Homo sapiens: one gene and its partners. The protein of the gene in region 2 purifies or fractionates together with the protein of the main gene of each other region. This does not show direct contact. Each region holds a gene or a part of one and is shown on either strand. Other genes may lie near its edges.

What was found.
Region 1: the proteins of THAP2 (region 2) and CTNNBL1 purify together in Homo sapiens (affinity purification with mass spectrometry; 3 studies listed by BioGRID and IntAct, with this or other methods). This does not show direct contact.
Region 3: the proteins of THAP2 (region 2) and TRIM71 purify together in Homo sapiens (affinity purification with mass spectrometry; 3 studies listed by BioGRID and IntAct, with this or other methods). This does not show direct contact.

What each region holds. Positions count from the first base shown.
Region 1 is NC_000020.11:37,773,994-37,781,107, reverse strand, and holds part of CTNNBL1 (beta-catenin-like protein 1), read right to left. Parts: intron 3,764-7,114; coding exon 3,691-3,763; intron 3,455-3,690; coding exon 3,396-3,454; intron 1,922-3,395; coding exon 1,773-1,921; intron 1-1,772. UniProt on the Homo sapiens protein: Component of the PRP19-CDC5L complex that forms an integral part of the spliceosome and is required for activating pre-mRNA splicing.
Region 2 is NC_000012.12:71,674,227-71,681,184, reverse strand, and holds the end of THAP2 (THAP domain-containing protein 2), read right to left. Parts: coding exon 6,787-6,958; intron 4,497-6,786; coding exon 4,077-4,496; 3' UTR 541-4,076; downstream 1-540.
Region 3 is NC_000003.12:32,890,887-32,898,000, reverse strand, and holds the end of TRIM71 (E3 ubiquitin-protein ligase TRIM71), read right to left. Parts: coding exon 6,190-7,114; 3' UTR 177-6,189; downstream 1-176.

The DNA of each region.
Region 1 (7,114 bases), on a different chromosome or scaffold from region 2:
AAAGGCCTCTGAGTAATTTCTCATGCTCCTCTCTGCATTTTTTTAAAAATTGTTTTTAAAAGCAATTCCTCAAAGGAAGACTTTTGGTCAATGCAAGGTCTGGTACACACTGGACAAATGAAGAGGTCTACTGTGCCTCCAGCCCCCCAGAAGCCTTTTAAAGATAATATATTTTAGAAATATACACAGTAAGTCATCACTTAACATCATAGATAGACTTGGAAATGGCAACTTTAAGTAAAACGGGATATAGGAGGTCAGATCCTCAAATAACACCGTTATAACAATGATCAGAAAAACTGGTTTCATTATACATCATTTCGCTTAAAGTTATGGTTTCCAAGAATGTTACTGATGATGTTAAGTGAGGACTTACTGTACCTGGATAATCCTAACATCATTTTAAACACAAAAATGGTCACTGTAGAATTTGTTATAACGGCAAAACATTGGAAATATCCTCAATGCCAACAACAGAAGAATACTAAGTAAGCTACAGTCCCTTAGAGGCCATGATGCAGTTACTGAAAACTCTCATGAAGATTATTCACAGCATGGGAAACAGCATCTTATGTCTGAAATGTAGCAATACAGAAAATCCTATGTGTGGCAGGCTTAAAAAGTTGTTAAAAATTATAGAAAAAAAGACTAGAAGAAAATATACACCCAAAGACAGGCTGTGTTTAGCTCACAGAACTGTTTTCCTAACTTTGTGGAGACAGAAATTCTGTCTTAGGTATTTCTGTGTATGCCCAGTACTTAACATAGTACCTTGTCAATGTTTTAATAGCAGTTTTATATGTTAGTATTCTAAATTCTATTTAACAAATATATATCACATTTATGAAAAACCTTTCCAAAGAAATATCTTAGTTCAACAGAACTTTCAGTATACTTGAAGTTTTAAGACAGCAGACTCTGGCTCCATTTCTTTTTTTCTTGTTTTTTTTTTTTTTAAATCTCAACTTGCTCCTCTGTAGGGCACAATTCATAATGACTAGAATCTTCCAACCACATAAACATGCTCGATTTTTTTTTTTAAGTCCCTTGACCCTATACCACAGTCTGGTTATCCCCTCAGCCTTCCCCCACACACTTCTCTACTCCCCTTCCTAGACAGGGTCTCAAGAGTTATCAACATAAGCTTCCTCTCCCCTTTTTGCTTCTAACTTTAGGATTCTATAAAATAACTGTGAAACTAATATAAGATCCACTTTCAGGAATTAGCGTATAAATAATAAGACACACAAGGAAAGTACTATAAATAAAAGTTTCTAGAACTGTCTTGCACGTTTTCATATTTCCTAAGCTAGGCATACAGCACATGTACAACTCATTACTGAATGAGGAGTGAAAAATATGAATGATACGCTGCTTTCAATAAAAATACAAACATATGGCATAGATAGGTCTATGTGATATATACAGAAAATTAGTCCAAGTTTAGAAGTAATGGCTAGATTTCCCCAAAACTAACACACTATGGGAAGGAGAGGAAAAACACCAATGTCCTTCAATGGAGTGGACGTATTAGCAACCACCACAGTAGGGCACAAACAGAACACAATATACTTTTTATTCATCTACTCTAACTTTAGGAAAGACCACATACCTATACAAACACATCCCCCCATGCCTGAAGACTTTACTCTTCAGGGTAAAGTCTAGGAAACCCAACAGAATAAATGATCATAGCTACATGCTCTTGAATTCAGGCTAACAGTGAAAAGTCAGGCAAAAAAGGTGGGAGAACTAGGGCATTCGAAACATACCTGAGCATGAGATTCATCAGCTGAAGACCCTCGCCCTTCAGGAAGCGCTCACGATTGGAACTAAGCATTAGACAGGAGCAGAGGGAATCAAACAGATTCTCCATCATCTCCTGCTCCTCAGCCGTGCTGGGATTGTGTCTTTTAAACACCTGTCAAGCAAAAACAGCACAAAGCACAGAGCTATAAGAGAATGTCTTTTCATGAGCCTCCATCCAACAATTCCTAAAACCTGTGGGTCATAACTCTACGACTGAGGAAACAGAAGCTCACCAAACAAAATTCTCATCAGTTTCCATTTTAGAGAAACTAAATGATTCACATATATTAAATACATGCAAAAAAAAAAGCCAAAACACTCTACTGACCACTGGGTCCATCAGTAATTGACAGTTCCAGGCAAGCAGATTTTTTTAAAAACCAAAACCCAATAAAAAACAAAATCTTTTTATCGTGAAATATAACACAGATACAGAAAAACTCCATAAAGGACATATAAAACTAAATGAAGTGAACACCCCTGAAATCATTATCCAGGATGAGAAACAACTTTGCCAACTCCCCTCAAAGCCCTCCACTTGCCCAACCCAACCATATCTCATTTCTTTCCCTTCTAAAAGCAACCACAATCCAGAGGGCTGAATCGTGGCTCAATATAAGGAAGCATTTCCTGACAACCAAGGCTACTGAATTCCCTCACAGGGGAGCTGGGGCTTTAATTCATGGGAAGGGCTTACAGCATTAGTTTTCTTTTTGCCAGAGATGTAAGGCATGTTAAGAGAAGCCTTTAAACTGTATATGCATACCCATACAGTCTACTACAAGAAGATCAATAATCTCACAGGAAAAGGACTAAGCACCTTCCCAGAACTGGAAACAGATTCACATTTCAAAGCTCTATTTTTGGGGTGGAGGCCAAGACACTCAGGCTGCTGGCACCAAGATGGAAGCTGTATGCAAACTGACATCTCAGACTCTCCCAACACTCTTAAGATTTTATCCAAATGATCTATTTTCAGTCCTGTTTTTAGAATAACACAGCTAAAACTTGTAAGAGGAAATCTTAACAGTATTTTCAGAATGCCAGCAGAATAACATTTCAACTGGATTTACATTTCTTACAGTGAGAAAATGGCAGTTTCCAAGTTCTCACTCCAGCCTTCAGCACCACATCCTCCCCTATCCTCCCCTTGACCCCCACCCCACTGCAGTGGAACTTGTACTCCTTGAGCTTATTCAGATCCTAAATGAACATACTCCATTTTCACAGCAGATTGAAAGGAAGGTTGGTGAATAATCTTGGCAGTGGGTCAAATGAAAATAATTTGGTATGCTTGGCCCAGAACATACACACTTAAGCATGAGGCACATCTTTTTTGAGTTGACAATATCATATCAGAAGATGAAGAAAGTTCAGAACTGATACACAGTGATGTCTGGTCATAAAGAGCAAATGACTAAGAAAAGGAGGCAAACCATGTCCCTCCGTATAACCCTCAAACCTGCCAACATGCTCCATATGGCTTGCAGCACATGGCTTATTCCTTCCCACAGTTTCCAGCTCCACCTCCCATTCAAAGCAGACCATGTATCTTACAGCAGACAGGAAGCATAAGAATTACTCACGGATAACTGCTGAAGAAGCACATCGATTCCATCCAGCTCCCCAAGCAATTCCCTGTTTTCTAAAGGGGAAAAAAATAGAGGAAGAAAAAAAATGAACCTAACTGTCAGATTTTACAGCCGTCTAACACTGATACATCAGCAAACAAAATCAATACAGCTTGACAGAGTACAAAAGCAGCACAGGGAGTGAGAGGGAGAGCAAGGGGATGCCAAAGGCAAGAGAGCTTGCTGTCATGATCTGAAACAAGCCTGGCTCCTATCCTAACAGAATATCAATACTGAGAGGGCGCCTCACCATCATTGTCCTGGAGCAATATGGCCAGCACTTCACTGCAATACAGTTTGTTGGCATCAAAAGGCATCTTTGCCTATGGGGAAATAGGAGAAATGAGAAAAATGTTAAGGGGTCTTGCTTCCTTCCCCAGGACAAATTTTTCACGAGTACTATGATCTGAGTTAGAGAGAAGCAGAAGTTAGAAAAGGAAAAGGCAGTTAAGGGTAAAAACGTCTGCCTCTGCTCTCAAGAGACCAGAACCAAGTAAAGTGACAGATTGAAACAATGGCTCTCACACTCTTAATGCCCAGGTATTAAGGTTACCTCCTCGGTGAAGACTTCCAAGATTTCCCATTTTGAGTCCAGAGATTATATATGTCTAGCCCATAGTACCCAAATGTGAACTAGATGAATGAGAGTTTTGAACTTTTAAGATTAAAACTCACCATGAAGCTTAATTCACAAGTTACAATCATGAAATTAGGCTATAAATTAGTTAATATATGAGCAGAGAAGAAAGCAATTCTTGATTAACTGAATGTATTTATCACAAAGTAGTTCCTTCTGGATTTTTTTAATGCTTAAAATTTAATTTGAAATCATAAACTTATCTGCTTGCATGCCATAATCTGCCTACTACTTAAAACAGAAACCACATTAAATATGCAAAAATGTGTTAATATTTTAACACCCAAATTACTACCCACAATTCTTTCCCCGCTGCATGCTCTGCTATTTGGGAGTTTCAGAGGGGACACATCTACTGCACAGACTATCTTTCATGGCTGTCCTCAGTGTTGCTTCGGTAGTGAGACTTAAATATCTCACCATTATCACTGCCCCCTGGATAAAGGTGCATAGAGAGGAGCGAGTCTCAGTGGTGTGTTTTTATTTATGGTGCCCATGATCCTTAAAATGCAGGCATGTAAACAATGATTATTAATCAGCAGCAACCTTTGCTACCTATCTGTGTTTTTGAAATGACAAAGAATTTCTGTACTTGGAAAAGACAAGGGAAGTGTTTATCTTGGAACTAACACTTCCGTCACCTTACCGCCATTCACAGATCTGTTTAGATATTGGTTTTATACTTAAAGAGGAAGAGTTGTACCTAATCAAGCAATATTCAGTATCATTTCAGTTTTCTGTGCACGTCTTCCTCATCAAGCTAAGTGCAGCCTACAGGGTTTCAGGAGGTCAACCAAGTATGACCATCTTAGGTTAAAAGATCTATAAATGCAAGGTCTTACATGTGCTAAATGTAAGGTATGCTCCCTGGGCGAGCTTGAAGCCTTGTTTCAAGAAATTCAGCATAATAGTCAGGGCTTAAATGCAACCTGTGGTATGTTTCACTTTAAGAAAAATGGTTTCATATTAACGAAAATCAAAACATGAAGGTGAAAAGCCAAGGAGTAAGCATCTCTATCAAAATCAAGGATTTGCGAATAAAATTTCCCACTCAAATTATGTAAGTTCCAAGTACTGCTATTATATTTTAAAAGATTTAAGCCACACCAACTTATACATTAGCATTGCAAGGGCCATGGTTCTTGTTTAAAACAAGACACTTAACTGAAAGAAGCCAAAAGACAGTAGGTCACTAGAGCCATGGCCTTTCTGTGGATCTAATGCCTCTTGTCCTTTATTCAATTTTGTAAGCTCCTGTTTTCAAGTTGGGGGGAGTTTTTCTTCCTTTCAATAAATACTTATTAGGCACCTGCTATAGGGAAGACACAGAATTAAGCAAGAGAACAAACAGGGGTAACTTAGATCTGAACTCTGTCCACTGTTGTGGCATTTAAAAACCTTACACTGAATTAAAATTAATTTTGTAGAAATATCAAATTTTAAAAAAGGAAAATAAAACACAGATCTGGCATTAGACACACCTAAGGTTGACTCAAATCTGCAGTTCTCCAACTTTGCGCTGTGGCAACTGGGGTGTCATATTTAATTCACCACAGGATATGTTAAATTTTCAAGGAGAACACAGTGAAATGTGACATCTGTTGAACACTGCATTAACCAGGAGCTCAAGTTACATTTCTTCTGGTGACATCATATCTTTGTGGAGCTGCGTTTGGATAGCTGCTCTGACAAAAATAACTGTGAAAATCGATGTGAAATCAGAATGATGGTCGTAGCGTTCAATCTGATCCTAAGGTTTAAGGATTTGAGCAGTACCAAAAGGCACACATACCATTAGGAAGTAACTATGATATTTAAGAATGAAATAAAAATATTTTTTCTTTCAATTTGTGTGTATTATCTTCTCAAATGGCTAATAAATTGTAAGGACATAAATATATATTAAATGGTTTGGACATAACTACTTAATAAATGAGACTATTAGGTACTTTTTGGCATAGCGGTGCTGTAAAAACAGAATTACTGAGACACTAAGAATGCTGTAAGCTGACAATGGGAATCTATGACCCAAGAAACATTCTCAGTCTCAGTTTCCTCATCTGTAAAATGAAAATAAAAAATAGCACTTTTTTGATTAAGGGCACTGACATGAAAAAAAGAAAAAAGAAATAGAAAAAAAATCCCACTTATTTGGAGAGTTACTATGAGAATTTAAAAACATAATATGAAAGTACCTAACACACAGTAGGTACCACAAGTTTTTCTGACAACCATAACCAGAAATATCTGCATTAGAATCTGAGCTCTAACAGTTACCAGCTATGAGACTGGCCAAATTAATATCTTCCTCATGAAGTGGCTGTACTAAGGGAACTGGTGTATACATAACAGGCACCGACCAGCTGAGTTTCTTGCTACTGAGAATTCTTGGTTCCACAGGAAATCTCCACCTTTTGCTGTAAGACACTACTAAGAGTTTCCAATTTAACCAAAGTAAGTTTTTAAAAACCAGACTGATAACTTCATCATTTTTAAATTAAAATATAAGTTCTGACTGAGAAATTGGCATGAAGGAAGAATCTAATCAGGAAACCAAAATGATGAGGCCCGATAACTCCCCAACGCTGAGCTCTGCAATGCTTCAGAACCTAAAAGCAGTGCCAGCTGAGAAGCAGCTTGGCAAGAGGAGGTGGCTTCAAAGATGCCAAGGCCCAATGCTCACAGGCTCTCTCACGTGGTTCCCATGTGGTTTGGGCAACACCATTTCCTCTCTCTCTGGGATTTCTTTATCTGTAAATTGGGGATAGCTGCACCCTCTTGGCAGGGCTGTTTGTGAGGATTAGAAATAATGTATGTGGCCAGGCGCAGTGGCTCACACCTGTACTCCCAGCACTTTGGGAAGCTGAGGCGGGAGGATCACTTGACCCCAGGAGTTCAAGACCAGCCTGGGCAACATAGTGAGACCTCATCTCTACAAAAAACTACAAACATTAGCTGGGTGTGGTGGTGTGCACCTGAAGTCCCAGCTACTTGGGAGGCTGAGGTTGGAAAATCACTTGAGCCTGGGAGGTTAAGG
Region 2 (6,958 bases):
ACTCCTGGGCTCAAGCAGTCCTTCTGCCTCAGCCTCCTGAGTAGCTAGGGTACTACAGCCACATGCCTCTGTGCCTGGCTAATTTTTATTTCATTATTTTTGTAGAGATGGGTGTCTCGCTAAGTTGCCCAGGCTGGTCTTAAACTCCTGGCCTTAAGTGATCCACCCGCCTTAGCCCCACAACATGCTGGGATTACAGGCATGAACTCCTGTACCTAGCCTGCAAATACATTTTTGTGTGAGCCTCAAATTATGGTCAGGATAGAGATAGACTGTTACCATTTTCATAGCCGTTCATATATCTTGTCTAGATTGCCTATTATCTGAAACAGTGCAAATAAACTATAATGTACATTTAGATATAATGTGAGCAACAAAAATGAAAATAATTTCTCTTCAAGGCTTTACATTATCTTTGTTCTACCATTTGCTTCAGTTTAGGGAGAAGGACTTCACAGAAGTCTTTCAGGGGGTCAATGTAAAAGAACTTTCACAGAAATATTTATGTACATTTTTTAGAAATAACAGGCATGACAGTAATTTCCTTGGGGAAAAATGTTTAATATCACCATACTCAGAATACATTTTTTTGAATATGCAATTATTTAGTATACACTACAAAATCCTCAATTTTAGAAAGTTTCCAACTGTCTAAATATCAGAAGAATGCAATATTTTGGTACAAAGATGAACCATTTCCTATATTATAGCAAAATTAAAATCTACCCGTATTCTAATATTGAGAAATGAGATAAAACACAATATTATAAAGTCTACTTAGAGAAGATCAAGTGACCTCAAAGACTTTACTATTTTCATATTTTAAGACACATGATTTATCCTATTTTAGTAACCTGGTTCATACGTTAAACAAAGGATAATGTGAACAGCAGAGAGGATTTGTTGGCAGAAAATCTATGTTCAATCTAGAACTATCTAGATCACAGACATTTCTATTCCTTTTGCAAGTTGGCACACAGTAAATGCCCGAATGAATAAATAAATTGCATTAACAAGGATGTCTTCATGTGTAAATCAGAGATAATACCACCTACCACACAGAATGTAAGGGAAAAGAGAACAAATAAGTACCAAAGTGCTTTATACGATTCTGAGTTATTTTAAAAATCTGTGTTAATAGGTTTGTTATTTTACACAAAATATCAAATTTCAAATGAACTCCAGTGCTGGATTTCGATGTAGTATTTTATTTATAGCTATGTTTTCCTTTTAACAAAGATACCATTAACACATTTGTTCAGTGTTCATTTTAAAGGGTAAAAATGTTGTCTTATAGCTCATTCAATAAAACACCATAATTCAGGTCAAATGCCAATGTCCTTGTACCTCCTTTGCTAAGTCAATATAAGGAGGAATCTGTTTTGTTTCAAGACAAAAGCATTTGATTATAAAAAGGTCTACAGTTTATAGTTCTTACTGAATTCCAATTCAACAGCATTTACCAAAGGACTTTACAGCTATTTCTTTTGTAGCATTTATCATATTGTATTATAAATATTACTTGTTTCTTTCAGGAGATAGAGCAACTTGAGGGCAGAAAATAATGTAATATTCCTTTTTATATCAAGTACCTAGCCTTTGGCTGGTTCTTTGTAGAGGTTGGTGCCCAGTAGACAGAGAACAAATGAACAGAAGATCTGTGTTGTGACCGGGAGAGGAAAAAAAATCCATTATAATTTCAGTTAGTTTATGGTCAGAGTGATTAAAAAAAAAACTATCAAACTGAAAGCAGCATTTTAATAGACTCCTTTTAGGTTTTTCTCTGTGAATAAAGCTAGTTTTAAGGTAGACAAATGTATGTTAATAAAACAATTTGATGCAAAGAGTTTGGAGCATGTTGTCAGGACAGCACAATGAAAATCACGGAGAAAACACAGAAAAGTTTACTCTAAAATTATTGAGTAGTAGTTTAATACTGTCAGGTAATAATGAATGAAGATGAAGTAACCTTGTCCAAAATTTGTTGTATTTTACAATATTTTATTTTTATGATTTTTAAAATTTATTAAGGTTTCAAGGTATTACTGTAGATGGGAACTGGGCTACACAAATAAGTGTTTTGTATCTGGGGTGAAGGGTGAACCACATGACAGTGGTTATACTTGGAAAAAATAGTTTTTATTAAAATGATTATTTGTCCAACTTATTTTGAGTTATAAAATAGATATGGTCAGTGAATGTTTGATGATGATTATATGTTGGCAAAAAGTTATTTGAAACCATACTAGAAAAAAATAAATATGTAATGACAATTCCAAGGAACTACATCTAATACTTAAGATAAAGATAAAATAACTAGCAAGATTTATAACATTCACAAAAAGATTTTCATAAATATCTGTTTTAAATACCTCATGGGCATTCTAAGAGACTTTTCCTACCTTTGCATTTCCTTGGGAGGCATTCCTTAGTAAAGAGAGTGCTAATACTGTAAAAGAATTGTTACTAGGAGCCAAGCAAATGCAATCCTAAATAGCAAAAAAATGAAATTTTTAAAAAAATCATGAAGTAGCTATTACTTTACAGGAAAGATTACAGCAATTTATGACTTGGTTTATGCTACCTTTGTATGTTAGTATCACAAGCTTGAATTAAATAAGTTGAGTTAAATAACTTGATTCTCTATTAACAAATTTTTACATGATTTCAACAAAGCTGTTTGAAGCAAAGGGTTCCTATTAAACATTAGTGAAATAAAGCAAACCCTTTAATTGTTCAAGTGGCAATGATAAGAATAGTTCTGAACTTTTATTTTATAAAATAATTAGCATTTGCATACCACTATCACAGACATACACATATTTCTATAGGGAACATTTAATTTCCCTTATGCACTATGGTTGCTTTATTTTTGTTGTTGCTGTTTTAGAGACAGGAGTCTCACTCCATTGCCCAGGCTGGAGTGCAGTCGTGCAATCACAGCTCACTATAGCCTCAACCTCCTAGGTTCAATTGATCTTCCCACCTTAGCCTCCCAAGTAGCTGGGAACACAGGCATGCTAGTTGCTCTATTTCACTCACTAAAAAAGGAGATAAAAAGCAAGCTGATGTCTAAGATAAACTGATGCCATTTTAAGTTATCAATACAAAGTGTGAAGATATAAGTAGTTTCCTGTGATTAAATTTTACTGTGGGTTTATGAAGAGGAAAAAAAAAGCCCACTATATTGATACACTATTTCTGAGGTATAGTATGCATTTGGAAAGTAGTTAAAAAGAAAACAAAAAACCTTAGGAGTTTTGGTTATCAACAAATATGGAAGCACCAATTTTGAAGTTGGAAATGTAAGATTTTTATTATGAGAAAAAGAGTAGTATACATTTATCTAAGCTAGGTCCTGAACTCTGAATTATTTTACAACACTTACTTAGGTGAATATTATCAGCTACTAGATTTTACTAGTTTAAAGTACTTGAGGCCTTACCTAGTTTGGATGACTCAATGGTACTTCACATTCAAATATTTTCAAAATATTTTACAACCTATTTTAAAATCATTCTTATGAGAGAGGCCATGATAAGCTCACTTTTACTGGTAAAACAAAATATAGAAAGTTTTAATTTAAAAACTTGCCCTGTACCTTTTTTTCTATAAATTTTTCAAATCACAGTGCCAATTATAATTTAATTAATACAAAACCCAGCAGTTTTAAGGTCATGTTGAATGTTGGTTAACTCTTATTTAGCATCTTATTTAGAATGCAATATGCCAACTTTGGTACAGGAAAAAATTCTTCTCTAAGTTAAACATATTACTTATCATAAGCTGTTCTTTTAACAGTAGTTTAAAAAGACAAAAACAAAAAACACCTTTCAAACACACAATTTATTAGCAAAATTTTTAAGTCCGTAATTCTAATGTAAGGCACTTCCACTCATTTTCAAATAAAATTTCCATATGAAGTTTTTTATTCTTTTGTAATCAAGTCTTCACAAATTCAGTAATGTTACTTCAAGTAAAACTTTATTAAATAATGAATTTTGGCATAAGTGCCATAATTATCTTTACTTCTGAAAAGAATGAAGGATAGGCATCAAGCTCTGTGCAAGCTAAATTTAAATGAAGGTACTCTTGGTCTGTTTTAGATTTAGACTTAGCAGTGTTTTATCTTGTTGATCTTGTTCAAGGATCTTAAAATCTTCCAAAGGAAGACTGCTTAAGGCAGTTGGTAACATGTGTTCTGATGTACCTTTAGGTAATACACTATTTGCTTCTAAATTCTTTACCAAACACGTGGCTTTGATCCATCTTCGAGTTGCTCTGCGTTCCTTTTGTAGGCAAGTTTTCATTTTTCTTCTTAAGCTTGCTATTTCTTTTTCCAGTTTAATGATCCTCTTTTTTGCCTCCATAGGATTCCTAAAGGCATAGCTGTGTTCAAGTAGTACTTGCTGACTACTAATGTTTGATTTTAAATTAGATGGTCCAGCTGGAGAACAACTGTTGTTTTTCTTCAAAAGATTCCTTGACTTGAGTTTCTGAGCCGAATAAAATTAGAGGGTTGAACATAAATTATGAAATATCACAAATAAGCACATAGTGTCCAGTTTTGGATAACAGTATTTAAACTGCTCTTTTAAAAGTCAATTTTAAAACTTTAATAGGAAACAGCAGCAGCCATCTCATGTAATCCAAGATTAAGTTTTTTAACTGGTTGAATTAACTCTAGTCACCTATTTCTTTTTGTCCCATATCCAGAGAGATTCAAACACTGATTTGGAAATAGACAATGGACGTCCAAGGTTTCTTCCAAATTATTGACTATGACTCTATAGAGACTTTAAAGATCCTTTGCAATTTACTAAGGTCAATTTACAATATATGTAGATATTATTTATGATATTAATTTGATCCCCTTTTAATTAAATACCCTTTTCTCAATTTGATAAATATTTTAGACCCAGGGTCCTATTTAATGAAAACTGAAGGATCTGTAGAAATGTATTCTTAAGTACCAAGCTTCTAAACAGATTTACCTATTAATTTTTGATGGTTATATCTTCAAGGATTTAAAATCTGGCTAGGAACATTTGCCAAAATCAGGAGACTTTTTTTGCTTTTATCTCTTTCATTCAAATGGTCATCAAGTCCTATTAATTCTACCCACTAAATATTCCTACCATGAATCCTCTCCTCTCCGTCATTCTTTTTTTTCCTTTCTCTGTTCCACAATAAGGCTGAACACTGTCATTCTTAATGTCACTACTTACACTGGGCCCGTATCATATCTGTTCTGACTATATTATTCTTTATTGATCTCTCCACTTCATTTTGATCCTCATTAATCCACATTCTGCCATAAGAATAATTTTTCTAGAATATTTGACTTTTCCATTCTGGCCAAATTATTCTTTGCCTATCTATTATCTAAAGGAAAAATAAATCTTTAGATGGCATACTATACAATTTAGGATCTCACCCCATTCTGCAATTTACCATCTTGATTTATACTCCAGCAATACTAAGCCACTGGGAGTTTCCAGATTATATCATATCCTCATAAGTCTGTGTCTTTAATTCATTAAACATTTATTGAAACACATACTATGCATTCCTGGGGACACAACACTGAACAAATAAGATGATGTGGTTCCTATCCTCATGAAACCTACAGTTAGTCCCTCTGCCTAGGGAATTGACAGGAACTCTTTTTTGATCTTTGTATCTCTAGCACTGAGCTTAGATTCTGGCATAATGGAAAGTTTAGTTGTATTTATTAAATAAATAAATTATCAAAATGTCAAAAATAAGGTGTATTTCAAATTCAGTAAGTATTTGAGTATATACTATGTCCCAGGCACTGTTTGAGGTGCTGAGGATTCACGTGTGAAAAAGACTAAGTTCTTGTCCTCCTGGAGCTTTTCTAACATCAGTGGTAATTAGCTTACCACAACCTCGTCTCCATTCAGATAATAACTCATATACATTTAAAAGTTTAACAGTTACAAACAAGAGAAACAGTAGTTTTTCCTCAGAGGAAAACATGTTTGTCCTCCCTTTCAAAGCTAAACTATTTGTGTTCATTTTACCCTTTCTTACTCTTGGTGACCCTGTCTTTCCCAGCTAGGTTTTCCTCTCTGGTCAGATCTTCCCTAACTAGATAAAACATTGTTTTAATTCATTCATCTTATACCTTTATTCTTTCGTTTTTTTTAATTTACTTTTTTTTGCTTCATTTTTTCTTCATTCTTTCCTTTAAATATCACTTGCTAACATTTCCTACTCACGCCTCAACCCACTCGTTTTTGTTCTCATTATGCAACTGTAATTATTCTGTGCAAAGCCAAGTTCCCTTTCCTCTATTTTAAACTCCCAAGGCTTCAAAAGCCCACCCTGAATGCCCAAGCTCTCTGAAGATTTCTGTCATGCCTGCCTCCCTCTGAACTTACATTCTTTGGTTTAATTCTGGCTGTGTGCTCTTAAAGTACTTTGCACATGTTATTTGTATGTCATTTTAAAATCAGAGCACAGTGATGCTGGAGGTTTCATTACTCATATGATTTTTCAGTTTTACCAATGGTGCAATTATTAATAATAATGGGTAATAATGTAAAATTCCAATATAGTAAAACAATTTGGATTGGGGAAAGAATATTGGAGTCAGGAGACCCAAACTCTGATTCTAGCCTGTACCTTTACTGTACAAGAGGAAGGTCTGCAACTTTTTTGAGGCATATCACTATAAATGAATTTCAGTTAATAACTGCATAAACAAAAAGGAATGAGTTCTAAAAATGGTTTTAACAAAAGGAGAGTAACATTACCTACCATAGACTTTATATGGGTACAAAAATCAAAAATGGTTGGAACAGCATCCATTTTAAGTCGTCGAGTTTGTCCTGTTAGGTCAAAACAGGAGGCTTCAAAGTGCTTTGAACAAAGAAAAGTGTGTTTTCCTGGCACAAAATTTTTGCGCCTAACCAGGCGAACCCATTCTTTT
Region 3 (7,114 bases), on a different chromosome or scaffold from region 2:
CTATTTAAAAATGCTCCCATCACCTTTTTCTTTTTGAAGGCACCGCATGGGCCCAATCTGGCCCACCAGTCACAGTACAGCTCCTGGACTGTCTACCTCAGGGACTCCCTTTCCATCCAGTACAGTGCACATACCCTTATTTACTATGGATTAAAGGATCACACAGACACACTGTAGCCATGGAAAAACCCTCGTTTATTTGATTAAACAAAAATAAAATAAGCTGCATAGGAACAATTTTAAAGTCCAAAGAGACACCAACTTTGTTTTAAGGCTGTAGTAGCTGATACAGCATCTCCTTGCTACCTCCTCCAGCCTTCTCTGTGGACCACAGTGATACATTCAGAAGCCTGTTAGCTAACACAGGAGTTTTTGAACACTTTTCCATTGGTTCTTCACCTGCTCATTGCCTGTCATGCCTGCGGCCTGCAATAGTAACATTTAAGATTTAAAATGTGAAAGCCAAAAGAGGAGGGGGGAAAAAAACCCAAAATCAACCAAACAAAAACTCACTTTTGCCTAAAGGTTTGGGGGGAAATCTTCATTTCCCCACCCATCTACTGCATTGATGGGATTCACATTACCACGGCAGTGCCCATTTAAAAGTGGCAAATGGCAGTCAGCACCCCACCCCGGACAGGCTTGCAGTGTGGTTTCTGCGGCCAGGGGAGTTACTACGGTAGTGCATATTCCTTATATCATGTCTGCCTTGGACAAATACAAATTAAGAGGTTTAACTTAGTCATTCTAACATAAGGCAACTTGCCCACATTAATTCCCCCAATTGTTTATTTAAAAAAAAAAAAGACAAAAAGACTCAACCGAGTCACATGTTCTGCAGTTAAAAATTAAAGCATTTTGCTGACCCGGCATGAGAGCTAATGGACAGTATTAAGCAAGATTCAGTTTAACAACCCTCCCACCCACCCAAGTATAACTAACATGCTAGTTAAAAAACAACACCCCTTACCCACCCACCCTTACCTGCATCGATTTTAGGAGAAAAGGGAAAAAAAGAAAGGAATCTTACCACCCTAAAAGCAAGAAAACCCCAGAAATGTGAAAAATCTTCCTCTGAAGAAAGACAACTACACAGACTGCTAGAAACACAAAGAACTTACAGAGTTACAGAGCTGGTTATTTAAAGAAAGTAAACACTTTGCTACACACATCAACATTCAGTCAGTGTGCTCTGAGATAGAGTCTTAAGAAAAATACTACCTGAGCTTGTAAGTTAATACAATCATTAAAAGGAGGTCTAAGACCATGTGGATACACAAAACTTTTAGAACCATTATTGGTTAAATGATGATGGAAAATATCCCACCAGGCTGGCTTGTTAACCCGTAAGATCAGTTTTAAAAATAGACATCATTGAGGTATTTCTTCACCATGACATTTATAAGCCCCTCATGATAATGACAGTGGTCTTAGGACCCTCCTCTCTTCCAAACAACCAAAAATTAGGGCAGAAGAGAGGTGGGAGGGTCAATACAGTATATCCTGGTAATGTGCTTCTCAACTTTATCAAGTATTTAATAAACAAGGAAAAAAAAAACCCGTCAACATGTTACCTTTGGTAGAAAAAAATAAAAACAAAACAAAAGAGCAATACACACTTCAACAGTCACTGCTCAGTCAAAACAGTGATTGTTGCAACATCATGGTGATGAACGTCCTGCCGGGTCCAGAGAGCTACAAATACAATCATGAAGTCAAGAGGATTCTCATTCCCTTCAAATATTTGATGTTTCCAAGATCTAGACCTTTAGAATTGCTCCTAAAGGGTATTATTTGCAGACATTCGAAATACAGATAAAATATTTTTCTCTTGAAGAGAAAGAGACCTAAAGGTCTTTATTTGTAGTTAAGTCCTCCAATAGGTCAGATTAACCAGTAGTTTCATAATACTGAACAACAGTAATGGTATGCATAATTCTTTTTGAGGGGGAAAAGCCAGATTGCTAAGAACTACTTGGATTTATGACTACATTTGCCTGACATTTCTCTTTCAAGGTAAGTAGAACATTTCTCCTGGGAGAAATCAGTTGTAGATTTATGGTAACATTTCTTTTAGAGGTAGCTTCCCACTCCCACCCACTGCCCACTGGATTAATACTATTCTTTTTGAGACCTGTCAGATGCTAACATGAGGTAGATGACTTGCCACAAGTGAGGTAGAAACTCAGCAAAAGCAGTCAGTGTGGTCTGGAATGCTGCGTCCTGTGCCCTTGGCCCTATAGAAAACCAGAGAAAGCCGTAGAGCTCTGGAGGCCCTGGCCCTGTGACACCATCACCTGCAAGTACAAGAGTGTGACTTTTATACAGCCCCAGACTGTTGGAAACTCATTCAGAGTGATGTTTTAAATATACCTTAAACATACCCTAAATACTTTTTGGCACCACTGGATTAAAAAAATAAGATCAGAAAAACAAGCCTAAAACTTTGGCATATCTTTCACCACCTACCAGAACAGAGCAATCGTAGAATCTTCCAACGAGGAAGGTAACACATATATAAACAGTATTTTGCTGCTTCAAGCCTAAAAGACTTTCCTCCTCAAATAATTAAGCTTTGGCTTAACTAGAATAAATCAGACTGAGCCGATCTCAAGCTATCTCTTGCAACTCCATCACAAAGTGCCTCAGTTCTGGCAACATTTTTGGCCCAACACGTAATTTGGATTCGGTTTATGGTACCCTTTGTTATGTGTTTCCCAAATAAGTTAGACTTAAAAGGGCATTGAGGAGTTAGTGCACTTGGGGTACAACCCAGGTCACTGTGCTCTAGTCAACTTGAGTGCCACTTGCAGCCACAACAGGGCACATGTTCTGAGACAGCATTAGATCTTGGGACCAAAAATAACACTTTTGAAATGTTAAGTCAGTGTCAAGCAAAAGTAGTTTTTACCTATGGGTTAGATGTCCTTTAAACATCTCAATACTCAAACCTATATATCCAAACCCAATGGGCATCTCCACACATAAACTGAGCTTACATCATACCCCACCCAACCCTTGCCACCTGACCAGATCAGACCTCCATGGGGACTAGTAATTGTCATACTTACTCCCCAGAAACCTTTTTATTCTCCTACCTCATAATACCCAGGACCTTATTTTTTCCATCAGGATGACGACTCCCTTCTTTGACCCAACTCCTGGCTACCTGGCATTACCCGGGCAGGAGATTATGCATTTAAACACAGGTACTTTTCACAGTTTCACACTAGGGACTGCCAAATGTTGGCTTTTATCATCTTTCTTTGATTTAGAACATTTCACATCATACAATAAACACTCTCCAAAGTGCTTCGCACCAATCCCTATGGGTCAGGAGTCAACCACGGGCAGGAAAAACCGCCAATGTTTTAAAAACAAAAGCTTTCCAAATGTGACCATGTTTCTCAAATACCAGTCATGCACCATTTTGGGTACAGAAAGGTAAGGAGATAGATATACCACCACTGAGGACAAAGAGGTAGTATCTCTGACCTACACACCTATTTCAGGGGATAGTTCTAGTTGCTCTAAGCCTGCAAATTTACAAGTCTGTAAATTAAGACCTGATAATTTCAGCCATGGAGCGAAAATCTTGGCTTTTCGATCACATCCATAGTAAAATGTCAAATAAGGAGCTCTAGTTACTGTTATGCACCAAGAACATTTCTCATTCAGGTCCCAAAATTTTCCTACATCTGGGGAAATTAGAAAGAAAAGAGCAGAATGAAAATGATGATGAAAAGATTTTAATCAAGATCCATCTCCTCAATAAAATTTTTTTCAAGCATTTAAAACCAGTTGTCTTTGGTGTTTAAAGGGTGGCTTGTTGGGCAGCTGGGGAAAGGGAAGGAAGATCAGCACCAAGTTACTCCAAAATAGAAAACAGTAAAAATGTTTAATTATATTAACTCTTTACCAAAGAACTTAGAGCTTAACGGCCAAAAGGCAACTGAATAGGCATTGGGGAAGGATTCACTATTAAATTCTACAGTAAAAGGAGCTTCTAACAAACAACATTTCCTAACACCTTCCCACCCTGTAACAGCAGCTGGGAGCCAGCAGCAGTTTGAAGCTACTTTCCAACTTTTGAATCTTTTATTGCATGCAGTTCTCCTCTGTGAGATGAGGTTTTTTTTTTCCTTCCCATTTTGGTCACTCAGAAACCCTAGAATTAAAGCAATGGGAAGAGACAGAGTAGCTTGTAGTAGTAGTAAATTAAACGTCCAAAAGAGGTGTACGGGAAAAGCAACTTGATTGACTTGTCACACTGTCCCCATCATCTCCTTTTCTATTGGGATAACAGAAACAAATTGCTCCATTTGTTAATCTGTTCTGCTCATTTAAAACGATACCCATTTTGCAATAGAAATTTCTCTTAAACAGAGGAACAGAAGTTGATCCATAAGTCTTTAAACAAGAGGTCTCCCTTGTAAGTCACTGACGTTTGTTTGAGAGTCCCTCTTTTCCCTGAGGAGGGCTCCTCCAGAATTTGGTTCTTATTTCAGTATTTGGGGCATTGCAGGAACCCACTGGGTTCTGACAAGCAGGGTATCAGCTACATCTGCTTTGCACTTGAAAGACAGACAATGCCCAGAAGCACAAGTTTTGTACCCAAGTCCAGCTTACAACCAACCAATCCTGTAAAGTGACACAGATTCTACCCCACAGTTCTGCAGTGGGAGCCTTAAATTTTCATTCTTTGGTACCGAGTTACAGGTTTAAGAAAAGACATTACATCCTACATTTCAGGTTGGGACAATTTGGTTTCTAGATCCTTTATGGTCAAAGGCCTTGGGGGGAGAGGGGGCGGGGGGATTCATGTTAACCATGAGGTCCTAAAGCATGGCCTGGGTGCAAACAATCCTATAAAAAGTGACCCAAGCAGAGGGTGTGGGACTGGGCTGTTGGTATTAATTTGACTTTCAAACCTTCTATTTCCCTGAACTTTCAAAGCAGGAAAAAATTGTGCTTGTAAAATAAAAGTTCTTTCCTTTGCCTACTCTTCTTAGGAAAAGAAACCCCTAGCACTACAGAACAACATGCACTCGCGGGTCAGGGCAGACCCTGCCCTTTCTGTGGAGTTCCTATAGTTTGGGGGTGCCTTGTTCTTTAATGTGCTCCCTGACTCCCTCAGCACACGCATGTCCACCCACATTCATGTCCACGTCAGCCCATGCCTGAAAACCCTCTCTCTGAGAACGAGGTTAATTTCCTTTTTCCTTCCATTTAACCCTTTATAACCTAACAGCAAAATAAGAAAGCATAACTTTTGAGAATATGTTTAATCAAAAATCCTGAGCTACCATCTATATACTTTTTTAAGAAACCAAAGTGTGAAAAGGAGAGGTTCTTTGGGAGGCAGTGTGTCATTTTCAGCTTTACTACTTGGGTGCAAGATGGCTTTGAAACAAACATGCACACACCCTCCCTTAAAAGAAACAAAGATTATATACCCTAAAATATGAAGGGTCTGCTTTTCTTGGCTAGCAAGCCACAGCCACAACGTCTAAGATCAAGAAACGATGCAGAAGAGGATGTTAAACACACTGAGGTATAAACAGAGAACAGAGGAAATTTCTCTGTTGCAGCATTTAAAAAGAGAAGATTTTCCAAAAAGATCAAAACAACACAACATAATCTAAACCCCATATAAACAGTATTCTCAAGAACACAGGTATTCTATAATTATGCATTTCAAATCCTATTTTTTCCATGTTTTATAGTTTTTTGTTTTTTTACTTAGTAGTTTTTTTTTGTGTTTCCTTGGCTCAATCTACAGAATACACCCCACCACACACATCCAGTGCCCTCCCAGCCATACAGATGCCAGGCTTGTGCATATCATGCCCCACGCAGGGGAAGAGGGAAATGCAAACTCCACTGAGGAGGGGAAGAGGGCCTGTTGCAGAAGGAAATGTAAAGATTTATGAGGTAGATAGAAATTATCACTTCACAGGCTCAATCCCTGCAGAAAAGATAAGTACATTCATCTGTAAAAAAATAAAGATGAGGTAGGACTTAAGCAATGTTGTACTTTTCTTGTTCTCTTTAAAAAAAAAAAAGAAAAAAGAAATTTCCCTGAGACTGTTTCTTCTTTGAAATTCAAAAAGAGAGAGAAAGAGAAAGAGAGAGAGAGAGAGAGAGACACGCACACACACCCCAAACACAGAAACCTAGGAAATGCAATTAGAAGACGAGGATTCGATTGTTGCCAAAGTCCACCACAACGATCATTCCGTCGGGGGTGATGGCGATGCCGGAAGGGCGGTCCATCTGCCCAAAGCCGCTGCCTTGAGCACCAAACTTGCACAGGAAGCTGCCGTTGGATTCAAACATCTGTACCCGATGGTTCCTGGAATCCGCCACAATGATGCGCCCTTCCTGGTCCACAGCTACCCCTTGTGGGCGCAGGAACTGCCCATTGCCTGTGCCCTCCGAGCCCAGAAAGCGTGCCGACTGGCAGTCGGGGTGAATAACCAGGAGCCGGTGGTTGTTGAAGTCAGTGACCACCAAGTGGCCCTCATGGTTGAAGGCCACACCCCGTGGGGAGTCAAAGTGCTTCCAGAGAGCCCCCTCGAAGCCATACTTGTTTAGGAAGACACCATCAGGCCCAAACAGCTGGATCCGGTGGTTCCTCGTGTCTGAGACCAGGATCTTGCCCTCAGAATTCACCGCCACATCCCAAGGGTAGTTGAACTGCCCATTCTTGGTTCCTTTCTCACCAAACTTGAGGAGGAACTGGCCCTCGAACGTGAAGATCTGGATGCGATGATTGTCCTTGTCAGCCACCACGATCCTGCGTGAGGCGTCACAGGCCACGCCGGCTGGTCGGTCGAACTGCCCAGGCCGGGAGCCCAGGGTGCCGAATTTGTGGTGGAAGGCGCCGCAGGGCTTGAACACCTGGATGCGGTTGTTGCTGCGGTCGGCGACAATGATGTAGCCCTCCTTGTCTACACTCACACCCCAAGGGCGGCAGAGCTTGCCATCGCTGTCACCCTCACTGCCGAAGCTCAGGCCCGGGAGCCCAATGCCCACGTAGCTGCGGCCTGACTTGACCACCACCTTGAAAGGGCTGTTCTCAATGTGCTGGTTGCACAGTGTCACAGATACC